4 linked regions of the Homo sapiens genome follow. The protein of the gene in region 2 purifies or fractionates together with the protein of the main gene of each other region. This does not show direct contact. Each region holds a gene or a part of one and is shown on either strand. Other genes may lie near its edges.

Region 1 (4,678 bases), on a different chromosome or scaffold from region 2:
CAGAGATCTTTCGGCCTTTGTGTATTTCATCTCCCACCTCATAGGGTTGTTGTGTGAGAATGAAATGAAATAATATATGTAAAACACTTAGAAATGAGCCTGGCAAATAGTAAATGCGCAAATGTTAGAAGCTGTTTGTATGCATCACATTATAAATGGCAAATCCAGTTGAATCACAATGTGTGTTGTTTTTAGGTTATTAAAATGAAACGACAAAAGTTGAAAGCTGTTATAAGGAACTTGCAAAAGCCTGAAATTATTGACTGTTGGAGACTATACATGATTGTAGAGACTATATAGACTATGGGTCAGCAAACTATAACCAGCTATAACCTGATTCTATAAATAAAACTTTATTAGAACACAGCCATACCCATTTATTTATGTATTGCTTGTGGCTATTTTTGCATTATAGTGGCAAGTTGAGTAGTTTTGGGAGACCCAATGGCCTGCAAAGCCTAGAATATTTACTAGCAGGCCAGTTACATAAAAGCCTACTCCTGCTGTAGGCTCTAGAAGCTCTGTATGACTGTTGAGAATATTTCAATCCCTAGGTGCCTCTAGATCTCGATTTTAGAAATGATTGCCTGTGGTCTTCATAAGACGGGTGCAAATCTGAATTGCCTGTGATGTTTAAAAAATAAAACCAGATACCTTGGCTGTATGTCACCCCAACTAATTTAAAATCTTTGGGAATTGGGTTTTAAAAGGACAGGTATAATTTATAAAAATTCCCAAAGAATGCTTATGCTTATTCTTGCTGACTACTGGATAATTTTCATACTGGTAATATAGTTTAATGCTCTTAAAAAAGGAAAGCCTAAGAGATTGCTTCAGAATGAAGTAATGATGGGCCCTTTGAAACCAGTGAGGCTCCAATTTGAATGCGAATGTAGTTTGTGCTTCACTGGGTTAAGAGATTAGTGTGGCCTAAATAAATGCATGGTGTTGGTTAAACTTTCACGTATATTACTAATCCTGAAACTACCTGTCTGTCTTTCTAACTGCCTCTTATATGACAGTGACTGGTTAGGGCACGTGGTGAATAGAAGATTTCATGTTTCTTTTTTTACTTAGAGATTAGTGGGCGAAGAGGGGACTGAGAAAGTTCTTTCTGTATCTGCTGTAGGAAAACTGGCTCTAGAAAAGGGGTAGGAGTGGGCCAGCGGATAGGGATTTAAACAGAACTTTTCCATAATTATACAGAAAAATATAAAAATACTGGGATCTTTCATTGCTCATAAGCTTATTCTATCTTGGAAGTAATTCCTATGTTTAATAAAAGAACTTATATAAGAAGAGGCCTAAAATGAATCAATATTTAAAACTGTAATATCTTGGATAGGAAAATTAGCTTTGAAACATTTTGTAATCATTAATTTTTGTCGAATTTAGAATGAATTGTCTGTTATAGAAAATGAGGTTACTGTGGTTAAGACTGACTATTTTCTTTTTTCTTTCTCTAAAAAATGAAGGCATTTCAGTAGAACCATGGAGGAGCTGGTTCATGACCTTGTCTCAGCATTGGAAGAGAGCTCAGAGCAAGCTCGAGGTGGATTTGCTGAAACAGGAGACCATTCTCGAAGTATATCTTGCCCTCTGAAACGCCAGGCAAGGAAAAGGAGAGGGAGAAAACGGAGGTCGTATAATGTGCATCACCCGTGGGAGACTGGTCACTGCTTAAGTGAAGGCTCTGATTCTAGTTTAGAAGAACCAAGCAAGGACTATAGAGAGAATCACAATAATAATAAAAAAGATCACAGTGACTCTGATGACCAAATGTTAGTAGCAAAGCGCAGGCCGTCATCAAACTTAAATAATAATGTTCGAGGGAAAAGACCTCTATGGCATGAGTCTGATTTTGCTGTGGACAATGTTGGGAATAGAACTCTGCGCAGGAGGAGAAAGGTAAAACGCATGGCAGTAGATCTCCCACAGGACATCTCTAACAAACGGACAATGACCCAGCCACCTGAGGGTTGTAGAGATCAGGACATGGACAGTGATAGAGCCTACCAGTATCAAGAATTTACCAAGAACAAAGTCAAAAAAAGAAAGTTGAAAATAATCAGACAAGGACCAAAAATCCAAGATGAAGGAGTAGTTTTAGAAAGTGAGGAAACGAACCAGACCAATAAGGACAAAATGGAATGTGAAGAGCAAAAAGTCTCAGATGAGCTCATGAGTGAAAGGTGACTTTTATATTCTCTAAATATAAAAATATTTATCTCCAGTGTTTGTGGTTGAATGTTTTATATTTTAATTAATTCTATTTTAAAATAATTATAAATTGTAATAATGATAGTGATATTACTGTTTAGCTATGGTTATATTTCCTTATACTTTATGATGTTTAGCACAAAGCAAAATTGCTTGTTTGATTTACACAAAGTCTTTTGATTGTATTATAATGACTCAATTTTCAGCTACAAGGAGGAAAGGAAATGGATTTTCAGTGGAAAAGAATGTGCTTTTGAATAACAGCACGTTTGTAACTCAGAATTGGATATATAATTATATGTTTAATTATAGACCTTTAGCTTTTGGTACTTTATAGAGTGTCACAATTCATTAATCTATCCTGATTCTTGAACATCAAAAGTTTATACCACTTCGACATGTCTGTGGCTTGACATAAAAAATCTGGAGCTTTCTAGGAATTCTGATCACTTATGAATTTTAAAACCCAATTTATAGTCTAGAAACACCTGGTTTTGTCATTAGAAAAATAGGAAAAACAATGGTCCTGTGGTAGTAAATCTAATCTGTCAATAATTGTTAAGTACTATTTTGACAGCATCAAAAGGTAAGTGATCATTTTTCTTTTATACTGAAATGATGAAGTGATGCTACTTGCAAGAAATGAGAATGTATTAACACTTTTTCCTTTTAGGCATGGGTCCGCAAAACCGAATGCTGAACTATGAGCCAGAAAAAAACAGTCTGTAAATATGGCCTGAGAAAGAGTAATTGATTTTTAATTTATAGGGCTGCTATCTTTTTTTTTTTTTCGAGATAGAGACTCACTCTGTTTCCCAGGCTGGAGTGCAAGGGTGTGATCTCAGCTCATTGCAACCTCCACTTCCTGGGTTCAGGTGATTCTCCTGCCTCAGCCTCCGGAGTAGCTGGGATTACCTGTGTGCACCACCATGCCTGGCGAATTTTTTTTGTATTTTTAGTAGAGACGGGGTTTCACCATGTTGGCCAGGCTGGTCTTCAACCCCTGACCTCAAGTGATCCACCCACCTTGGCCTCCCAAGGGCTGGGATCATTTTAATCATGTGAATTGTGGTGAGCTATCAATCTTTTATTTGGTTTTTATTTTTTATTTTGTTTTTTTGGGGTTTTTTTGCTTGTAAATGAGTGGGACCTGGTAAAAGTTTATGGAATTATCCTTTTATTAGACATGGTGTGCTAGTCATATAATTTTTCTAAAGAAGTAAAAATTACTTACATTAAAAAATTGTGGCTGAGCATGGCGGCTCATGCCTTTACTCCCAGCACTTTGGTAGGCTGAGGCTGGTGGATCACCTGAGGTCAGGAGTTTGAGACCAGCCAGACCAGTATGGTGAAACCCCGTCTCTAGCAAAAATAGAAAAATTAGCCGAGTGTGGTGATGTGCGCCGAGTCCCAGCTACTCAGGAGGCTGAGGCAGGAGAATTGCTTGAACCTGGGAGGCGGAGATTACAGACATCCAAGATCGTGCCACTGCGACAGAGCAAGACTCTATCTCAAAAAAAAAAAAAAAAAAAAGTTTCCAGAGGGCTTTGAAAAGTTTATGGTATCTGTTTTTCTTGCAAGAAAATTGTCATTCTTATATGGAAATAAGTATTATTTGTATTAGGCCATTGTGACTTAAGACCATTCAACCTTACTTGAAAGTAATTGTCTGACTCAATTACCGGGAGGGAGAGTATGTGGCAGCTGATATAACATACTCAATTCTGGATTATTTACAATTAGATTACCTGCTTTTTGGATTCATTGTGCAAGCTCCCCCCCTTTTTTTTAGTTCTCCTTTTATTGATCTGCTTTTTTATAGGACATGTAACTGGTAATGGATATGAGATCAAACTCTCATTTTTCATTTCTTTTCATTGTAAAAAGTATTTGAGTATCTACTAGGCATGAACAGGCTACCTAGCAGTCCACAAACAGCCCAGGTACACGTTTTCAGAGTATGTTTTTACTCTTGAATAAATGTTAAAAAATATATTTTCTCTGATTTGAAACTTATTTATAAACTATTTTCTGTTGTCACTTAAAAGTTAGGTGCAAATTCCTTCTGTGCAAAGATTGCTAAATATTTAAGGTATTTTGGTAACAAGTATAAGCGTTTTCAAGACTACTTCCAAAGCTTTCCTACTACAAAAAGCTTTATATTTCCTTGGGGTTGATTTATAAATAAGAGAAACTTCAGTGTGGGGGGCTGTGTGTGTGTGTCAGATTTAACAAACATTGATGATTAACTACAATTTACTCTTCACTGGTGGCACCTGGACTAATAATGGAGACTCTGTTCTCAACAGCTGCATAGTCTGGGATAGCCAGGCAAGCAAATGATGAAAATGAAATGTGCTGAGTGGAAAGTATTAGTGAGGGAAGACTTGCTAAGGGAACTGTGCTTTAAAGCAAGTAGTAAGACTTGTTCAGGAATTGAGGAAGTCAAGAGAAGAGA
Region 2 (4,454 bases):
AATTTGAGGAAGGGGGAGACAATTCAGTCCATAGGGAGTGCTGTAACAGAAAAAACACAGTGTAAGTATCAGAAAGTCAGGGATTTTTTATATTTTGTTCTGTGGTAAGATTCCCATCTCCTACAACAAAGACTGGCACATAGTAAGTGCTCAGTAAATAATTGCTGAACTGCATTAAAGCAGAGGAGGGACATGCTCTGATGTATAATTTTAAAAAGTGGATTGGAGGGCAATACGGATTGAAGGGCAACACGACAACGCAGAAAGACCAGGGAAGAGGCTCTGGATGGAGATGCCCACACAAAAATAATAGGGACTTGGACCAGGATGTTGGCTGTGCAGATGGAGAGAAGTGATTAAATTCAAGCTATATTTAGGAGGTAGAACTGTCTGCTTTTGCCGATGTATTGGATGTGGAGAGGGAGGAAGAAGACATTGCTACAGATGAATTACAGGTTACAGGCTTCGGCTATTAGATGGATGAGGGGCAGACTAAGGGACAGATGGGGAGGCAGGGAAGAAAATCGGGAACTTCGTTTTGGACATGGTAAGGTTGAGATGCCTGAGACACATGAGAGTGAAGGTGAGACGTAGGCACTTGGGTATATAAATCTTGAGCTCAGAGGAATGTAGTGTGTTTTCCCCTGTCCCGAAAAGCTGTGGTATAGCAATAGTGAATCTTATCATCAGTGGAATATTATAGTGATAATAATTATAGCTGATACTTAGGGGCCTCTAAACTTCTTCCAGGTGATGAAATAAACTGTCTCTGTGTATTACTTCATTTAATTCTCACAGCAACTATCTTTGGAATTTATCACTTTTATCTCCATTTCATAGACAAGGAAACTGAGTGTTGGAAGGTGAAGTGAATTGCCTAAAGTCACCAGTTCAGCAAATGGGAAATGTAGGACTTGACACCAAGACTGTTTGGCCCCAGAGGCTATGCTCTGAACCATAATGACTTCCTGTCTTCCAAAAGGCAGGCTCTTGGATCCATATCTTACTGTGCTTCTAAATTATCCTGTGACCCTGAACCTTAGTTTGCTCACCTGGGAAATGAAGGGAGGTCCTGGTTAGGTTCCCTTCAGTTCTACTCTATTGCAGTATGCTGATCTCTTTTGTAAATCTGTATTAAATGAGAGTTTGCTATCGGTGACTTTCAGAGATGACACCAGTGATGATGCCCATGCTGACGATTCATTCTGATGTCTATGAAAAGAGCAAATCCTTTAAGAGAAGATGTAGCATACCAGTGTTTATAATCTGAGTTTCATTTGATTAAGAGGGGAAGCTCTTTAGAACAAATATCATTTCTGAGCGAGAGAATGTTCAGCATCTCAGCCTCATTTGTATCATTTGATAAAAGGGCCCCACTGAGCCAAGTGTGAGGATGATGCTTGAGCCAGACACATAGACACCAGACATTCCTCTGATGTCTGCTCCCCAGGCTTGGCCACATTGCCTCCCACCAACCCCATCTCAATGACACATCCATTACCTGCCATCAGTTGGCTCTATGGTGCTGGGAATGACAGAGTGTATCTACCCTGGATTTCAGAAAGAACCCTCCTGGCTTATCATGGCAACACCCTTTGGACACTCGTTTAAAGAGTCCTTCTTTGGGCCAGTGTTATCCTTTTGGGGGCATCTGGTATGGACGGCCAATTTGAATCTGACTGGGACATGCTAATGAGCCATTCATATGTGTGGGATTTGTTTCTGATTCGATTAAGCTTCAGAGAGAGGAAAGAAACAGCCACTGATTAGAGACATAAAAAAAGAAATACTTTAAGTGAGTAAGTGGTTCATCTTCATATAGGAAAGTATAAATTAAACATGGTCCAGGAGATGTGCTTTGAATAGCAGCTGGATAGCACAAGCATGTCCACAAGGAGACGGTGCCTCACAGCAATTGAAAGGGACTTAACCCCCAAAAAGGGCTCTGAATATGCTGAGTAAATAGATGAGCCCAGTTAGCTGATAAAAATGACTCTCAGATTAGAGATGGGAAGGTTTTTATTTGGATTTTAGAAAATTGCTCCCCACTCCATCGCCGCCATATTGTCTGTGTGAGCAGAAGGGAGAGCGGCCACAGCCGCTGCCGCTTCCACCACAGTGTGAAGAAAACAGGTCTGAAACAAGGTCTTACCCCCAAGCTGCTTCTGAACACAGTGACTGCCAGATCTCCAAACATCAAGTCCAGCTTTGTCCGCCAACCTGTCTGACATGTCGGGACCCGTGCCAAGCAGGGCCAGAGTTTACACAGATGTTAATACACACAGACCTCGAGAATACTGGGATTACGAGTCACATGTGGTGGAATGGGGAAATCAAGATGACTACCAGCTGGTTCGAAAATTAGGCCGAGGTAAATACAGTGAAGTATTTGAAGCCATCAACATCACAAATAATGAAAAAGTTGTTGTTAAAATTCTCAAGCCAGTAAAAAAGAAGAAAATTAAGCGTGAAATAAAGATTTTGGAGAATTTGAGAGGAGGTCCCAACATCATCACACTGGCAGACATTGTAAAAGACCCTGTGTCACGAACCCCCGCCTTGGTTTTTGAACACGTAAACAACACAGACTTCAAGCAATTGTACCAGACGTTAACAGACTATGATATTCGATTTTACATGTATGAGATTCTGAAGGCCCTGGATTATTGTCACAGCATGGGAATTATGCACAGAGATGTCAAGCCCCATAATGTCATGATTGATCATGAGCACAGAAAGCTACGACTAATAGACTGGGGTTTGGCTGAGTTTTATCATCCTGGCCAAGAATATAATGTCCGAGTTGCTTCCCGATACTTCAAAGGTCCTGAGCTACTTGTAGACTATCAGATGTACGATTATAGTTTGGATATGTGGAGATTGGGTTGTATGCTGGCAAGTATGATCTTTCGGAAGGAGCCATTTTTCCATGGACGTGACAATTATGATCAGTTGGTGAGGATAGCCAAGTTTCTGGGGACAGAAGATTTATATGGCTATATTGACAAATACAACATTGAATTAGATCCACGTTTCAATGATATCTTGGGCAGACACTCTCGAAAGCGATGGGAACGCTTTGTCCACAGTGAAAATCAGCACCTTGTCAGCCCTGAGGCCTTGGATTTCCTGGACAAACTGCTGCGATATGACCACCAGTCACGGCTTACTGCAAGAGAGGCCATGGAGCACCCCTATTTCTACACTGTTGTGAAGGACCAGGCTCGAATGGGTTCATCTAGCATGCCAGGGGGCAGTACGCCCGTCAGCAGCGCCAATGTGATGTCAGGGATTTCTTCAGTGCCAACTCCTTCACCCCTTGGACCTCTGGCAGGCTCACCAGTGATTGCTGCTGCCAACCCCCTTGGGATGCCTGTTCCAGCTGCCACTGGCGCTCAGCAGTAACGGCCCTATCTGTCTCCTGATGCCTGAGCAGAGGTGGGGGAGTCCACCCCCTCCTTGATGCAGCTTGCGCCTGGCGGGGAGGGGTGAAACACTTCAGAAGCAACGTGTCTGAACCGTTGCTTGTGGATTTATAGTAGTTCAGTCATAAAAAAAAATTATAATAGGCTGAAAAAAAAAAAAAAGAAAATTGCTCCCCAAATCCCTATGACATTTAAGCTCATTGTCATTCTCTGGCAGCACCAGTGACAGTAATGGGGGCCAGAGATCCTATTTCAAAACAAAGAAGTGATTACAGTAGATAGCGCAGGTGTCAATGGGACCCTGATTTGGAACTTGCTAATACTTCTGTCTCTGAGTTTGGGGCTTCTATAGGGTTTTGGTTCCATAGATATGCCTGGACTTGAACTAGCTTACCTTCCCAGCCTTGTGCATCGGGAAGCTGTGAGGGTCAGATCCTTCTAGATTTTGTGTCCCCTTACAAGGGTTGGAAGAGTCTGGCTGCAGCCCTGGCCTCACCAGCTGGCTCCCTCTTGCGTAAGTGGAGTTGCCACAGGGCTTCTGTCTGTGGCTTTCCAAGGAACCTGGAGCTGTATGTCATCTTCAAACCTGGACCTTTCCTCTACCACCCTGGCTAGCTTCACCCTTGGTTTCCTGCCCTCTGCTCTGGTTCTGAGTTTGAACCAAACTCTCACAGCAGCCCGATGTGCAGGAGTCCAAATGTCCTGCCTGCCCCTTGCAGCTCCCTCTCTCACCCCTTGGGGCTAGATCTGCTCCCTGCATCCTCAGCCTCTAGTGGGGTACTGCTTTGAATGAACTCATCAGCTGGAATTGGGAAGCGGTCACCTTCCAGACACTCCATCTGTCCCTATACCTGGAGCTTTCTCATATGAGCCCCACACAATAGATTGAACCTCTGGAAACTGGTGCCTGCAGGGACCATGCCTCTTTGGTCACCTTGCCTCTTTACATACTGGCAGCATCACAGACTGAAACAGCAGCTCTCAGAACTGCTGGAAATAGAGGTTACCCAGGAAATGTCCTATTTTGCT
Region 3 (4,678 bases), on a different chromosome or scaffold from region 2:
GTACCAATTTTTCTTTTATATTGCATTTTTACTGTACCTTTTCTATGCTTCACTATGTTTAGAAACACAAATACTTACCATTGTGTTAATCACTCTTATAGTATTCAGTATATAGTATTCTCTTATAGTAACATGCCATACAAGTTTGTAGCCTAGGAGCAACAGGCCATACCATATAGCGTAGGGGTAATAGGAGGCTATACCACCTAGGTCTGTGTAAGTACCCTTTATGATGTTTGTACAACAATGACATCACCTAACAGGGCATTTCTCAGAATGCATCCCATCATTAAGCAATGCACGACGGTATTATACGCTGTAAATAACTGTATGTGCTATACTTCTATGACTGGCAGCACAGGTGTGTTTACATTAGTATCACTACAAACATGAATCATATGTTGCGCTATGATGTCATAAGGTAGCAAGTTTTTCAGCTCAATTATATTCTTATGGGACCACTGTCGTAGATGTAGTTCATCACTGACCAAAATGTCGTTATGTGGTGAATGACTGCGGTAAAATTCAGGGCCCACGATGTTTTAGTGCAATTAGACAATTACAAGAGATAAAGCTATATCTTTTATTCCTTTCCTCATTATGGATAAATTTTCATAGAAAAAAGGCAAATCTCCATTTTTTCCTCTGATTAAAGTACAGTGTAGTATCAGATTCAGCGCTGATCAAAAGAAAGACTGATTTGAAAAGTTGGCTTTCTTCTATAAGCCTTGCTGTTCCTTCTCAACCAAGAACACTTCAAAAGAGCTAATGAAGTAATAGCTGCTTTGATTCAAATCAAGAAGTTAAATAAAAATGTCCTACAGACTGTGAGGAGGGTGAGGTATTTAAAAGCCAATAATACATTATAGAATATACTGATATCAAAGAGCAACTTTCAGAATTATGATTGTTAACACCTATGCAGTCAGTCCTTTGATGAAGGCAGGTGAACTGACATGCTTGGTAAGAGATTATCTTTTCTCCCTAGAAACCTACTTGTTTCAGATACTGGTTTGAACCATGATGAAATACTCTGCTTCTCCTCAAAGCTCAACTCTTCTTTAGTATTCAGCTATGAGGCTTTCAGATTGATAAAACTGAATTAAATAAATGATGTGTCCCACTGGAAAGCATTCTCATTCTAAGACTGCTGGTTAGTAACTTTGCCTGGGGTATTTAAAAAAAAAAAAAAAAAAAAAAAAAAGTCAAATATCTGAGTACTAATTTCCTGAAAAGTATGTTCCGATAGATGAACAGATCATTAATGCAGAATGAGAATCACTCCTAAAATAGGTAATGGTAAAAATTAAATTGACAATTACCTCTCTCTATGCAGAAGGAAATATCACCTATATGACATCATCATCATCTATTGATACTTGCTGGCAGTGCTAATATTGTTTTTAATGCCAATTTGTAAGAAGTTTTATCTCTCTGTCACTGACATCCTACAGAGTCACTTCCCCAGGCCTCCCATAGAAGTTGGGTGCCATCAACATAGGGAAATAAGAAAAGCTTAAATGTAAGGAAGGGTCTTGTCTTTTTCTGTGCAGAAAAAACAAGAATGGCAACACAGATGCAGAAAAATAGAGCCAGAGCACTTTTAGGGGAAATGGTGGGATACAGCAGGCTTCGTAACTTTTAAGTAACAAAATTTTGTTTCTTCTTACACCTCAAGTTTTAGTCCAATGACAAAAAAGGACAAAAAGTTTTTCTTAGTCTTCCCACTGGTCAGGAAAATATGAAATGCAATTTTGACACTTTCGATGTTTGGCACTTGCCCGCAATCACTGCACCGCTATAAAAGGCCTAGAGCTGAAAAGGGAGTATACCAAGCATGCTGCCATCTGAGGAAGTCTCCTGTGCCACTTACCTGGTTTTTCGTAAGTGATGGGTCCCACAGTCCTACATCCTCCCATGTAGTGTTTTTCAAATAAAAGTCATTAGGTTCAAATTGTTTAAAATCCTAGAAAACAGTGAAATAAGTTTACAAAAACATAGTGGTATAAACGCTAACCCAATCTTACATGTAAATCTCACCTCTTAACTAAGATGGGGAGAGGCACAGGAAAACCAACGTCAACAAGGACTTAAACTAGGAGTGATAAGGCTCTTAAATATAAAAAGGCATATGGAAGTTGCAGTCTACATTTTATATCAACCAACCACTTTCCTGATGGTCAGTCAGGTTTCCAAGGAAATTGCTGGAAGTTCTAATTAAGTAAAAAATTCAGCCACACACTAATATCAAAGCACTTTTCATTAGAGTACTGTACTCTAACTCGTCAGTTACAGTACTGGAATGGTGTCTAAAATAGCAATGTTTGCTTACAGCACTGCAAATATGATTTCTGGTTCTGTGCAAAAAAAAGATTTTTTTCGAGGGGAGGGGGCAGGAGATCAGATCAGGAAGAAAACTCAAATTTCAAACCCAAAAAGGCAGAAAGAAAGCTATTCAAAGAAAGTTAAGCAGTATGATGTTAAATTTATACTCTCATGTAAAAATTTAATGGTCCACTTCCCTCCAGACTAGGAAGATTAAAAGTCTTAGGGTAAAATCCCACTTGTTCCTAAAAAGTTCACAGTTCAAGGTGGAAAATGAAGTCTACACATAAATAATCATAGGAGGAACAAATCAAATGCATGACAGAAATGTACTGTGATGTTGGTATTAATTATTTCTATGAAGATGACCCCACAGAGTGCAAAGTGAATGGACTGTTTCATTTGGGCAGATCTACCTGAACTCTGGGGTTGGAGAAGGGCTACTTCCACACTTGGAACAACGTGACTAGAGAAGTCAACTTTTGAGCAGCTTCTGTTTCCATGCCATACTCTTCAAGTATTATTAGTGGAACTCAAATTAAGAAAACCTGTTGTATGAATGAATTTGCTTTTTTACTTCCAATTCCATTCAAACACTTACTGATCACCTATTACGTGCAAAACACTGTGCTAGGTGCTGGGGCTAAATGGATAAACAAGGTAGCTATGTTCCCTAGCCACCTAGAACTTAAAGGTTAGTGGGGGAAACAGCTTCAAACATTTCTTTTCAATCAGGGGCTCTGACCAACAAACCATAAGACCTGGAACAGTGAGATGTTGAAAAGGAGACCACTGCATGGCTATCCCACAGAGCTGTTATAAAGCTCATAGAATAAAACAGCTTGAAAAACAGTTCATAAAGCCCAAACTGTTATACAAGGGGGAAAGTAATAGTCTATGATGGGTCAAAAGGGGCAACAAATGCTCAAATCCTAAGGAAAGAGACAACAAGCACCCACACAAGCACGCCTCAACAATTAGAAGAAGGTCAACCAGAACATTCAGGCGTATCAGAATGAGAACAGGCTTTGAGTCCCACAGACACTGCCACTTTCTCAGCTGCAAGGCTGGGCCTATTTATTTGTTCTTCATCTGTGAAGTGGAGATAAGAACTGCTACACTGCCTCCCGCCTCCATGGTTGTTCTAAGGATTAAATGTATAGACAACTTTACGGCACCTAGTTCAACGCCTGACATGCTTAAGTCCTCAATGGTAGCCTTCTGCTTCAGGATGCAAAAATGAAAAAGCCCATTTTAGGGAGAAAGGCACAAGTTAATGCTATTGAGAATGTTTTCGTGAAGCTACTGCTGTGGCTGAAATTCAGAATCACATCTAAGATTTAGCCATCTTGGCCACTGACACAAAGTAATGGATCAGAAGCTGAGTCATGTTAAAATTTAAAAATGACATGCTACTTACTTCTATATGTTCTTTACAGTATTCCAACCCAATGTCACTAAGTATTTTTTTCACAGTTTTCCGGGCTTTTCTTAAACTGCCAAGATTGTTGACAGGAAGTTGGAACATAGTTTCTATTGGAAAAAAAAATTTAAGTCAAAGTCAAAACACGTACAACTTGTAATATTTACTAATTCCACTGATGATAGGATCATAAAACCTACCCATCTGACAAAAAAGGTGCATAGATATCCTCATCTAGTGTGTACACACACAGACACACACCTGCTTTCATGTGCATATGGCTTGATATATCCATCCATCCATCCTTCCTTCCTTTTCTTAAGACAGAGTCTTACTCTGTCGCGCAGGCTGGAGTGCAGTGCACTCATGGTTCATTGACTGCAGTGCACTCACGATTCACCATAGCCTCAACCTTCTGGGCTCAAGTGATCCTCTCACCTCAGCTTCTCAAGAGGAAGGGACTCCAGGAGTGCGCCACTATGCCCAACTAATTTTTAAAATTTTTTTGTAGAGACTAGGTCTCACTATGTTGCCAAGGCTGCTCACAAACTCCTGGACTCAAGCCATCCTCCTGCCTTGGCACCCCAAAGTGCTGGGATTATAGGCGTGAGCCACTGAGCCGAGCACATATCTACTATATTTTGAATACTTAAAGCAGGCAGGCAAAATAAGTACTCTCTGATTTTCCCAGTTTTTAACAGGACATTTTGACTATGAGTCTAATCTGGCATAATTCTGATAAGACTTAACAACAGTTCAGTAATGAACTTCAAGATGAAAATTAGAGAAATACTAGCAATCAATTATTTTTAAATCAAGTGTTAGTGCTTTTCTCATTTTGATGTTGAACATCTGAAAACAGAAAAATGCTTACCAGTTCATCATCATTACAGTTTTGAGTGCCAGGGTAAAGAGGTTTTTGTTGAATTG
Region 4 (4,204 bases), on a different chromosome or scaffold from region 2:
GAGGGCCTGGGAACCCGCAGTTTCGCCCCTCCCGGGCCCTCTGAGAAACACGGGTTCTGAGCCTCTGGGTGCAACTCCCAGACAGCCAGCAGGTGGCAGCGTCGCACCGAAAACGCCGCCTCTGAAGCTGGCGGGGCTGAAGCCCGGAATTCGTGGCTGGTCCCGCAGGGGCCGCAGCAGGGGCCTCACCCGGGTGCTGTTTCGTGCGCCTCACCCCTCACCCCCTGCCCATCCCTGCCTCCAACCCTCTGAGCCAAGGTCGATCGATTCTACTGAAGATTAACTGGGCCTGGGAACTGGCCCAGAGCCCTGGCTCCCTGCTGGGGAGTTCGGACCTCCCAAAGCCCCGGCCCAGCCCCAACCCCAGCCCCATGGCGTCAGCGTCTCTGGCTTTAATGGGGACCCTGCTCCAGCCGATGCTTTGAAAGCCACTCTCACCCACACCCGTGATGTCAATTACCGCGTACCCCTCAGAGGCCTCCCCACCAGCGCTGGCTGCACCTCCCCTCGGGGGCCTCCTGCATTCTCCAGCTCCATAGCTTTCCCTCCTGGTCAACCCCATCCTCCTGCTCCCCCAGCTCCGGGGACCTGTGGAGCCACCTTCCCCCATGGCCCCCACCAGCCCTGCAGTTCAGGCCCAGGAGGAGGCCCCGCAGCCCCGGACCGCACCGGCAGCAGTGCCAGAGTGGCTCTCCGAATGGCCACGGCGCCTTTCTTCCCATAAAGACCAAACTCCCCGCGTGATTCAAACTGTCCCACAGGCCTGGTCCCGCCCCTCTATCTCCTGGCCCCACCCGGGCCCCTCACTGCCCTTCCCTGTGCCAGGCCTCCTCCGGCCACCTGAATGCTCCCCCGACCCCGGCCCGTGGCCACAATGACACCCACTCACCCTTCAGACCCAGGCCCAAACACAGCGGCCTCCTCCACACCAGGTATCCTCAATTCCCGGTCTGTGCATCAGCCCCGAAGGCGGGGTGGGGTCCCAGGACAGCGCCTCAGACAGACGCTTCCATCCTCGGGGCCCCTGCGCTCCTGGCGGGCGTGTGCTGGGGGTGAGGCCGGTGCTGCAGGACGCGCAGCCAGACAGGCCGCCAGCCCGGCAGAGGCTGCCTCAGACCCATTCCCCTCCGCCAGGACAAAGGCCTGAGTTTCCCACGGAGACTTATCCATGCATCTGTCTCCTCACACCCCGCACCTGGCAGGGAACCACCGGACAGGCCGGTCACTGCTGCGTTCCCAGAACCTTCCAGACAGCACATCCGCCCCACACACGTGCAGCTCCCACTCCCCTCCCGGGGCTGCGCACACTGCCCCATCGCTGTGGCTCCTCCTGGGGCGGAGCCTGGAGAACAGGGAGGGTATGCGGCCCTTCCCAGGTCACACAGAAGGGCCCGACGGGCCGCTCCACCTCGTGCCATAGGCCAGGGTGGCCCAGTCTCCCACCCAAGCCAGGACCGGAGAAGCCACTATCCCTCAGCACACTCTAGCCTCAGCACTCGGCCGGGCCTCCAGGCAGGTTCCCACCTGGGAGAAGGGCTGGGGTTCTGGCCTTCATGCGGGGTTGGAAGAGGACTGAAAAGGCGAGTCCGAGGCTGGCCACATTCCCATCCAGTGTGGCTGGACCCCAGGGGTTCGGAGGCTCCGGGAAAGCCCACCAAGCCTCACGCGTTTCGCTGATAGATGCCCAGGAAGCGGCTGGCAGGGAAGAGGCGGTCCTGCAGCTCACAGAGCTCCCCTCCCACCCCCGGGGAGCCCCAGGCCGCGCTGCCCTCCACCTTCCCGCCCTCCCCGGCCTGCAACGCTCGTGGCGTTTTTCAACAGGTTCTAGAAACTCCCTCTCACTCTGCCCCTCAAGCCTGGCCACAGGGCGCCCCGAGCAGGGAGTGTGCGGGCTCCGGGTACACGCTGCGCCGCGGCTGCACCAGAGCGCCCACGACCCTGACCCCGACCCGAAGCGGCCCCTCAGCGGGACAGGGTGTTGGCGCTGGCGCTGCTGCTATTGCGGCGCGCCCCCCCGCTCTGGCCCCTGCGTGTCGCCAGGGACTCTTGCGCTAGGGTCAGACTCAAAGACGGACCGAGGCGGGTGCCCACCTGGGACGCGTGCGTTTGGTGGCGGAATCCCCGGGGCGGCCGGAGGCGGCGGCCGGGGAGTCGAGAAGCAAGTACTAGCGCTCCAGGACCGCGCGCGCCGCCCCGCGCCGCCCCGCGCCGCCCCTCGGTCCAGAGCCCCCACCCCCGGCCTGTGAGCCTGCGGCGCTGGTGGAGCCCGGCTCCAGGAAGAGGAGCTCACCCGGTCCCCCCTGATTGGACAGCAGCGAGGTCCCACCGGGCGCCTCCGCGGCTTAAAACCGAAGCGGGGGCGAGGGGGAGGTAGAGCCCGCCCCCTGCGCGTCGCGGCTGGGAGGGAGAGGAGGTGGGAGAGAAGGAAGAGGCGGAGGAGGCAGCGGGCGCCGAGGCTCTGGGACCCGCAGGCAAGCCAGACCGACGCGCAGAGCCGGGAGCCTCATCGCAGCGGCAGCGGCAGCGGCGGGCTCGGGCCGGCCTCGGGGGCTGCTCACCCACATGAGCATCCGCCCACCCGGCGAGCCCCCGAGCCCAGGCGGCGCGGCCATGGCCGAGCTCAAGTCGCTGTCGGGGGACGCGTACCTGGCACTAAGCCACGGCTACGCGGCGGCGGCTGCGGGTCTCGCCTACGGGGCGGCGCGAGAACCCGAAGCGGCCCGCGGCTACGGCACTCCGGGCCCGGGCGGCGACCTCCCCGCGGCGCCTGCACCTCGCGCCCCAGCTCAGGCGGCGGAGAGCAGCGGCGAACAGAGCGGGGACGAGGACGACGCCTTCGAGCAGCGGCGGCGGCGGCGCGGGCCAGGGAGCGCGGCGGACGGGCGGCGGCGGCCGCGAGAGCAGCGGTCTCTGCGGCTCAGCATCAACGCGCGCGAGCGGCGGCGCATGCACGACCTAAACGACGCGCTGGACGGGCTGCGAGCCGTCATCCCCTACGCGCACAGCCCGTCGGTGCGCAAGCTCTCCAAGATCGCCACGCTGCTGCTCGCCAAGAACTATATCCTCATGCAGGCGCAGGCCCTGGACGAGATGCGGCGCCTGGTGGCCTTCCTCAACCAGGGCCAGGGCCTGGCCGCGCCCGTAAACGCCGCGCCCTTGACGCCCTTCGGCCAGGCCACTGTGTGCCCCTTCTCCGCAGGCGCCGCCCTGGGGCCCTGCCCTGACAAGTGCGCCGCCTTCTCCGGGACGCCCTCCGCGCTTTGCAAACACTGTCACGAGAAGCCGTGACCGCGCGGGCCCCCGGCCCTCCCGCACGCGTCCTCCGATCGCCCCTGTGACTGTCTCTCTGCCCGGACAGGAAAGGCCTGGAGGGACCCTGCAGACCAGGAGGAGGGGGCCCGACTTCGCTTCCAGCCTGTGCGCGGTGGACAGTTTAGCGCAGCGGGAAGCGCCAAGGCCGTCGGGGCGCGGGATTGAGCTCGAGAGCCGGACGCTGGACTCTGCGCCCGGGAACTCGCGGCACCCACTGGGTATTGTCGGGACCCAGCAAGTCTAGGAACGGGGGTGGGTAGAGCATCCTTCGGGCACTGCCGTTCGTCCCCAAAAGAAGACCACCGCGGGGTCCCAGGGCCACGGCGAGGACGGGCACTGGTCAGATTCCGGACAGGCGGTCCTGGCCCCGGGCGCACGAAAGGTGGAGACGAAGAAAAGCCGGACTTACTGGCTCCTGATCCTCTTGCAGTGGGCCTCGCGCTCCCGCTCCAGCCGGCCCTTCGTGCTAAACTGCAGGGCAGTGCTCTGTTCCTGAGGACGCGCGTGGCCGGCACCTCCCACCTCGGTGACTCCGAGACTCCGCAGCCCTGCGGAGAGCCCACGATGGCCGTCTGCAGAGGAGCTGGACCGCGGGCGCAGGAAGACCCCGGGGAAGGCCTTTTCCAAGTAGGAGTTTGTTCTATTTATTTGGGAATTGGACGCCGTCGCCGGCTGCCTCGAAGTCTGAGGAATTTGTCCCCTAAATGTCCCCTGGCCTCCCCCCCCCGCCGCCATCCGCTGCCTGGGACGTCCGCGGGGTGGAGTTGGATGGAGACCGCTTTGCGGGCCCTCTGCCTCGGGGGGCTGCGTGGAGGAGGGTCCTCACAGCCCGCGCCCTACTTAACCCTGACGGTCAGGGGAGGGCCCCGTCTAGCCCTGGTGTCCAGCAAAC

Evidence for each region. Proteins that work in one complex are often made in the same cells at the same time.
Region 1: the proteins of CSNK2A3 (region 2) and GPATCH2 purify together in Homo sapiens (affinity purification with mass spectrometry, with the first as the bait; one large-scale study listed by BioGRID). This does not show direct contact.
Region 3: the proteins of CSNK2A3 (region 2) and ADNP purify together in Homo sapiens (affinity purification with mass spectrometry, with the first as the bait; one large-scale study listed by BioGRID). This does not show direct contact.
Region 4: the proteins of CSNK2A3 (region 2) and BHLHE23 purify together in Homo sapiens (co-immunoprecipitation; one large-scale study listed by IntAct). This does not show direct contact.

The regions. Positions count from the first base shown.
Region 1 is NC_000001.11:217,617,297-217,621,974, reverse strand, and holds part of GPATCH2 (G patch domain-containing protein 2), read left to right. Parts: intron 1-1,475; coding exon 1,476-2,192; intron 2,193-4,678. UniProt on the Homo sapiens protein: Enhances the ATPase activity of DHX15 in vitro.
Region 2 is NC_000011.10:11,350,895-11,355,348, reverse strand, and holds CSNK2A3 (casein kinase II subunit alpha 3), read left to right. Parts: upstream 1-2,098; 5' UTR 2,099-2,229; coding exon 2,230-3,405; 3' UTR 3,406-3,407; downstream 3,408-4,454. UniProt on the Homo sapiens protein: Probable catalytic subunit of a constitutively active serine/threonine-protein kinase complex that phosphorylates a large number of substrates containing acidic residues C-terminal to the phosphorylated serine or threonine.
Region 3 is NC_000020.11:50,900,144-50,904,821, forward strand, and holds part of ADNP (activity-dependent neuroprotector homeobox protein), read right to left. Parts: 5' UTR 4,623-4,678; intron 3,859-4,622; coding exon of another isoform or gene 3,854-3,858; coding exon 3,746-3,853; intron 1,967-3,745; coding exon 1,874-1,966; intron 1-1,873.
Region 4 is NC_000020.11:63,005,133-63,009,336, reverse strand, and holds BHLHE23 (class E basic helix-loop-helix protein 23), read left to right. Parts: upstream 1-2,372; 5' UTR 2,373-2,562; coding exon 2,563-3,288; 3' UTR 3,289-3,410; downstream 3,411-4,204. UniProt on the Homo sapiens protein: May function as transcriptional repressor. May modulate the expression of genes required for the differentiation and/or maintenance of pancreatic and neuronal cell types. May be important for rod bipolar cell maturation.